Linked DNA regions of Homo sapiens. The protein of the gene in region 1 purifies or fractionates together with the protein of each later gene. This does not show direct contact. Each region holds a gene or a part of one and is shown on either strand. Other genes may lie near its edges.

Region 1 (3,826 bases):
GTAATCAGCATAATGACCCTTCAAAAACAACTTACATTTCAAGAAGAGAGAAATTCCATTTTGACAACTATACTCACGAAGATACTTCTAGTCCTCAGAGTAGGCCTTTGGCTTCGGATTTGAAAGGTACGCAAGTCCTGGTAGATTAGTAGAGATGTGTTTAAGATTCTTTTAGCCTATTGGGCACTACAGAGTACAGAAATAAGGAGGAAACTTTAAAATGAATACAATTTTGTTTTGTAAAATTTGTATCCAATTTATTATACAGTGAAATTATTTAGGAATTTTTTCTAGATAAAATATATATTATTTTGTTTATATTATGTGCATTGTATGTGTACAAACCAAGTTTGGCAGTGAGCAAGAGGGAGTTAATTATTATTTTAAAGTATAAGTAGCACTCCCACCTTAAAAGAATTCTTTTTTTTTTCCCTAGGAATTCCAAGTAAACTGTATCATTTGCTTCCATCCAAGATATATAAATAAACTGCTAAAATCAATGTTTCAAAACCTTTGTCCAAGTACTTTTTCCCCCCACAAAATAATTTTAAATTATGTGATTACATTAACCTGGTAATTGATTAGACTAGTTTTTAAAATTAGAAATTGGAATTAAGTATATATTTTATACTGTCAAGAACGGTGGCGAATCTGAGATTTTACCCAACTAGTAAGCTCATATTTTAGCCTGCCACAGTTTTGTGGGTTCTAGTGGAAGTCACAAGACTCCTGAGCGAGAGATTAAGGAGAGTTTGTTACAATAGCAGGAGCCAGGGAATCAGCATGTTTGCATTGGTTGTCCAAGCCCCAGTTTCTACAGGCAGTGTAAAGAGGATCACACAGTGGATTGCATTACAGGAGAGAGTGAGCTTAGAAACCCGAGTATTATAACGGATAGTAAGATGCCTGCCCTTTCCTGTAGGTGGAAACAATACACATGCCTGCCCTGGCTCCAGAGGAAACACAATCTCTAGCTTCCAAGGTTGCAAGCACACCTGTTCTGTGCTCCAGAGACACTCTGTCTTCCAAGACTGCTATTCAAATATTCCTTGTTGAATTCTGTCCAAAGCTTTTTCTACATTTATTGGAGGTGATCCTGGTTTTTCTCCTTTAATCTGTTAATATGGTAAATTATGTTAATTTTGAAACACTAACCTTGAATTCCTGGGATAAACTCCACTGGGTGATGTTGTATTATTCTTTTAATATACATTCCTGGATTCAATTTGGTAATATTTTGTTAAGGATTTCTGCTTCTGTATTCAGAAGGATGTTGGTCTGTATTATTTTCTTGTAATGTCTTTGTCTGGCTTTGGCATCAGGAAAATCCTGTTGGGAAGTGTTTCCCCTCCTCTATTTTCTGAATTTGTGTAGGATTGGTATTATTAATATTATTCCTTCCTTAAATATTTAAATATGTAATACTCATACATATTTGTAAAATATATAATATGTAAATATTCACCAGAGGGCCTGGATTTTTCTAAATGGGAAGGTTTTACATTGCTAAATGATTTCTATTAATATAGAACTACTCAGATTTTCTATTTCTTGAGTTAGAGTTGACAATTTTGTATGTTCTGAGGAATTTGTACATTTCATGTAAGTTCTCAAATGTATTGTCACAAAGTTGTTCATAATATTCCTTATTAGCATTTTAACGTTCAAAGGACTTGTAGCGATGTCCCCTCTTTAATTTCTGACATTGGTAATTTGGGGATTCTTTTTTCTTTATTATTCTTGCTAGAGTTTTACCAATTTTATTTTTCTTTTCAAAAAATCAGCTTATTATTTCATTGATTTTTCTTGCTGCTTTGTTTTTTTCTTCCATTGATTTCTGTTCCTATTTAGTAATTTCATTCCTTTGGGTCGTCTGGTGCTACTTGGCTCCTTCCCTAGTTTCGTACCTGCATTAATAGCATCACAGAGTCTGGTATGTTTTCATTTTCATTCAGTTCAAAATACTTTCTTTTTCACTTGTGATTTATTCTTTGACCCAATGGATTGGAAGTGAGTTGCTTGATTTCTAAATGTTTGGAGATTTTCAGTTATTTTTCTTTTATTGATTTCTAATTTAATTCTGTTTTGATCAGAGAACATAATCTTTTTTAATTTATTGAGACTTGTTTTATTGCCCAGAATAAGGTCTGTCTTGGTTGATGTTTCAGGTGAACTGGAGTGTTCTATAAATGTCAACTGAGTAAACGTGGTTGACAGGTTTGAGCAAATCTATATCTGTACTGATCTTGTGTCTGCTTGTTCTAACAGTTACTGATAGAGGAACAGAGAAGTTGATTTGTTCATTCTATAAATTTGTTTAGTGTGTTTTAAAGCTCTTTTAATTTTTATTATTAATATTTTTTTTTTGAGATGGAGTCTCACTGTTGTCAGCCCGGGCTGGAGTGCAATGGAACAATCTCAGCTCACTGCAACCTCCACCTCCTGGGTTCCAGCAATTCTCCTGCCTCAGCCTCCCGAGTAGCTGAGATTACAGGCGCCTACTACCATGCCCGGCTAATTTTTGTATTTTTAGTAAAGACGGGGTTTCACCATGTTGGCCAGACTCAGTCAAACTCCTGACCTCAGGTGATCCACCTGCCTCGGCCTCCCAAAGTGCTGGGATTACAGGCATAAGCCACCGCGCCTGGCCAAAGCTCTTTTATGTATGCATACACATTTAGCACTATTATGTCCAGTTGGTAAACTGATACCTTTATTATTATGAAATAACCTTCATTATCCCTAGGGGTATTCCTTGTTCTAAAGTCTCTGATATTGATATAGCCCCTCTAGTTGTCTTTAGATTGGTATTTGCATAGTATATCTTTTTGCATCCTTTTATATTTATTTTGTAATGATGAATCAGTAGGAGAAACTCTGAATAGTTAAATAATAAATATATACCATGAAAATGGATTACTAAATCCTGAAAATCAAATATAAATCAAAGAACTAAAGTATTAAGAAAATAACTAATGGTGAGCACTATATCCATTTAAATACAAAATTAAGATTAAAGAACTGTTTGAATTATGGTTACAAAATAGAGTGTTAGTGTTAAAAAAACATTGACAATATAAAACAAACAATATAACTAAAAAGTTAGGTGCATCCTTTTACTTTTAACCTACCTTTGTCTATTTTGTTTACTGCTGAATCCCAGTGTCCAGAACCATGCCTGGAATATAGCAGACACTCAACATCTGTTAAGTGAATGATGAATGAACAGGCTGCCATTACACTAGAATATTAGGCAGAGGCTGGGCATTCACCTTGTACGAACATTATAAAGAGTTTTAAGTATCAAGAAGTTTAGACAAAATTAGCTGGGTGGGGTGGTACATACCTGTAGTCCCAGCTACTCAGGAGGCTGAGGTAGGAGGATCGCTTGACCCCAGGAGTTTGAGGCTGCAGTGAGCTATAATTGTGCCACTGCACTCCAGCCTGGGTGACAGAATGAGACCCCATCTGTTAACAACAACAGCAAAGCTTAGACAAGATGACATTTTAGGTCACTTTCTTTCTTTTTTATTTTTTTGAGATGGAGTCTTGCTCTGTGGCCCAGGCTGGAGTGCAGTGGCCTGATCTCAGCTCACTGCAACCTCCGCCTCCCAGGTTCAAGTGATTCTCCTGCTTCAGCCTCCTGAGTAGCTGGGACTACAGGCATGTGCCACCATGCCCAGCTTATTTCTGTATTTTTAGTAGAGATGAGGTTTCACTATGTTGGCCAGGCTGATCTCGAACTCCTGACCTTAAGTGATCCTCCCGCCTCAGCCTCCCAAAGTGCTGGGATTACAGGCGTGAGCCACCACGCCCGACAATTTTA
Region 2 (3,826 bases), on another chromosome or scaffold:
AATAATTTGGCTCAGACTTTACAACTCATCTCTGTAGCAAACCTGACTCGTTTTTCTTTATTTAAAAAAATAAATACCTACTAAATGAATGTAGAGTAACAACTTAATTTGGTGCTACCCCAAATGACTTTAAGTGCCTCATGAAAAGTGAATTATGAAATCTTGCAGATGATTTGAAATCAAGATCTTTTCTTGATAGTCAAGTAACTGCTGTTGAAAAAGTTAAAGATTTAAGGAAAAAATCACATATTTAAAGATGACAACTGACTGGATATTATGGACTATCAAGTCCTGTAGGTACTCAATAATTTTTTTTTTCTTTTTTTGAGACAGGGTCTCACCCTGTCACCCAGGCTACAGTACAGTGTCGTGTTCTCGGCTCACTGCAACCTCCATCTTCCAGGCTCAAGTGATCCTTCCACTTTAGCCTCCCAAGTAGTTGGGGCTATAGGCACATGCCACCATGCCCGGCTAATTTTTGTATTCTTCTATAGAGACAGAGTTTCACCATGTTGCCCAGGTTGGTTTTGAACTCCTAAGCTCAAGCAATCCATCTGCCTCGGCCTCCCGAAGTGCTGGGATTATAGGCATGAGCCACTGCTCCTGGCCAGTACTCGATAATTTTTTGTGGCTGTTTGAAGGTTCAGTATTGAGGAAGATGTTATGAAGTAAATGCCATATTTCTATTCTGCTCTTCTTCTACCTCCCACTTCTCTTCCTAAACCCTTTTAATTCTAACTGCTGATGGTACTCTTATAGGATGTATATTATATATATGTACATACACACACACATACACCCTTATGCATATGTATGTATACACACACCATATATAGTATGTGTATATATGTGTGTGTATATAAATATATGTTTATATGTATTTAAATAATTTTGATTAGTATTGCCCAGTAAAAAGGATACCAACTATGAATAGTTACATATATTAAATATACATCATGATAATATTAAGATGACAAGTTAGATATTAGACCTTAACTGTCTTTTTTTAATCCTCTTTTTTTAGATACTCTTGCAGATTATCAGAGCAGGTTCATTGCACTATAACTAATCTTGCTGTCTCTGTTGCATGAGTGCAAAAGATAACATAAAATGGTTGTCAAGCAGTATCTTCATTTTCAAAGGGGGGAAAAGTTGACTTTTGTACAAGCCAGTAAATTTATTGTTGATTCCTGACAAATTTCAAGATTGAGTCATTCAACAGATGGCTGTGGGACTTAGAGAAGAACACGGGACCAGCATGGGGTGCAGCTCAGGAAAAGCAGTTGCTGTCACATAAATGTGTATCCTGTTTTGGTAGATTACTATGTTAGTAGAGAACTGTGTCAACATACTATTCTGTGTCTGAATTTCAGCAAGCAGATAGAGCCACAGGATTCCTCTTCTAGACTCACGGTGGGGAAGCAATAGCAAAGACTCCTCAGGAACTGCAGCAGCATGCCACTCTAAGTACCATAGTGGCCTCCTGCTGAGAGTTGTTGCTTTGTTCAGAACTGAATTCTAGGAGAGGATCTGAAATCATACTTGTTCCCCTCAATCAATAAGAATATGGCCTTGGAGTCACGAACAAAAACTAGGGTCAAAGCCCTGTTTCATCACCTTGTAGCCAGGTAACCTTGAGCAAGCCACCTAAGATCTCTGTATCTCCATAATAATGTCCACCTCTCAGCGTCAAGGTAAGAACGAAAGGATAATGCTATATCGAGTGTGCAGTATCCCACCAAACCCAGTTTTGGGGCTCTCCTGAGGGGGCAGTCAGGGTGTCAGCCAGGGCTGCAGCCTATGGGTGCCATCCATCATCCAGGCTTGGGGCAGCATTGGCCTTGGGAGCCAGTGTGGCATCTGATTAAGGATGTGTGCTTTGGAGCTGACTACCTGGGTTGGAATCCCAGCTCTCTACTTACCAGCATGACTCTTCCACCTTTCAAGACCTCCATTCCCTTCCTCTTCATCCAGAAGTAGCTGGAGAATGGTATAGGAGAAGCACACAGCCCAGTCCAAATTTCTGTTTTATAGAGAACACAGGCCCAGACAAAGCCTCTTAGTGAGTTGCCTAAGATCATCAGGAAGTGACCAAGCAACAAGCAGAGCTCAGGATTCCCAGATTAATGTCGGGAATGTCTGCTATGCAGCGTGCCCACATTTACCACAGTTCACTGCCGGGGTGGCCCAGTTTCGCTCTGGGGCCTTGATCCTTATTACTGAGGGGCTGTGCTCCTTCCCAGCCTGAGTGTCCACCCTCAGAGTCCCCCACTTAACTGCTTCTCCCAAAGCTCATGGTATATCCAATTCTGAACACAGCAGGAGTCAGCTCACATTCACCCCAACCCAATCTCAGCCCCTCTGTCAGGGGAAAGACTCCAAATGAGTAAAACTCCCAAACTCTCCTCTGAAATGCATTTTCAGAAGGAAAAAAAAACTTTTAACTTATGGGTATTATTCATGCTTGTAATTTTAAGCGAGGACACTTGGCTGGAGAAAAATCACCTCTAAAAGTGGCTCAATAAAAAAGGCTCCAGTAGCCCAGAGTGTGCTAGCGCAGTCCTGGGCTGGACTGATGGGTATTGGTTCATGCTTGTCCTTTTTAGTCACTGACACAGTCTTATGACTGTTTCCTTTCCTGCTAGAAAAGGAGATTCCCAGGTTTCTTTTCTATTTCTTGATCACTCTAAGGTGAGATAATTACCCAATATACCACGATTACATTTTCATTTTAAAATTTGAAGTAATTTTGGACTTACCTAAGAGTTGCAAAATAGTGCAGAATTCATGAATACACTTTACCCAGCTTCCTCTTTTGTTAACGTCTTGTATGGCTGTAGTATAATGATCAAAATGAATCAATTAGTGCTAGTATACCACTATAAAGTGCACACAGTATTTGAATTTCACCCGTTTTTCTGCTTAATGTCTTTTTTCTGTTCCAGGATCCTTTTTCTGATCCAGTTTCCCCACTTTGCATTTAATTGTCACTTATTCTTGGCTTCTAATCTGTGACAGTTCCTCAGCCTTTCCTCTTTTTTCGTGACCTTAACACACTTGAAAGGGTGTGAGAGATTTTGTAGACCATCCCTCAGTTTGGATTTATCTAAACTCCTCCAATTCCCATGGGGGATTCGAGATGCTCTCTGACAATCACCTTCACAATCTATAGAAACAACACATTTAAGAAAACCACATCAGTATCTCAAGACTTTAAGTCAACCCGTAAACCTACCAAAATGCATTTTTCAGATGGGACTTCAGTGATTGTCAGAGAGCCTATCAAACCCCCCATGGGAATTGGAGGTGTTTGGCAGTTTGTTTTCTAGTAGGGACTTTTGTTGACATCTCATTTCACTCATTTAGCACAAACACTGCATCTGAAGGTAGCTTGCAGTGGGAGAATATTGCTGGCAAGGTTTGCCTTTTCTCACCCAATATAGAATTTTGAGGCTGTGATTTGGCTCTTCATTCAGTCAGGAATGCAGCATGGGAAATAGAGGTTTTCAAGCCTTCACTCCCTGCTGCCTGCAAAAAAAAGTGTCCAGTCATACCTGCCTGTCCTGCTCAATACCCACGATATGATGGTCAGGAGAGGAAGAATGGGCATGAGGTTGGTGCCTGTGCCAAAGGGAGATAGGAAGGTCTGAGTTTGCACTGAGTCCCAAGGGGTCGCAGAGATAGAGGCTGAGCAGCAGGTCCCTTGGCAGCTGCCCACGCTGTTTCTGTTTCAGGAAGCTGACAAAGCCAGAGGTGGGTGTCAGCACATCCCCCCGCCCCCTCTACTGAAGTCACCACCTGACTTTTCCAGGCTCTCCCTCCTCAT

The links.
Region 2: the proteins of CCDC110 (region 1) and TGFBRAP1 purify together in Homo sapiens (affinity purification with mass spectrometry; one large-scale study listed by BioGRID and IntAct). This does not show direct contact.

What each region holds. Positions count from the first base shown.
Region 1 is NC_000004.12:185,454,426-185,458,251, reverse strand, and holds part of CCDC110 (coiled-coil domain-containing protein 110), read left to right. Parts: coding exon 1-126; intron 127-436; coding exon of another isoform or gene 437-486; exon of another isoform or gene 487-510; intron 511-922; coding exon of another isoform or gene 923-1,056; exon of another isoform or gene 1,057-1,851; coding exon of another isoform or gene 1,852-1,916; exon of another isoform or gene 1,917-1,933; intron 1,934-3,826.
Region 2 is NC_000002.12:105,323,219-105,327,044, reverse strand, and holds part of TGFBRAP1 (transforming growth factor-beta receptor-associated protein 1), read left to right. Parts: intron 1-3,826. UniProt on the Homo sapiens protein: Plays a role in the TGF-beta/activin signaling pathway. It associates with inactive heteromeric TGF-beta and activin receptor complexes, mainly through the type II receptor, and is released upon activation of signaling.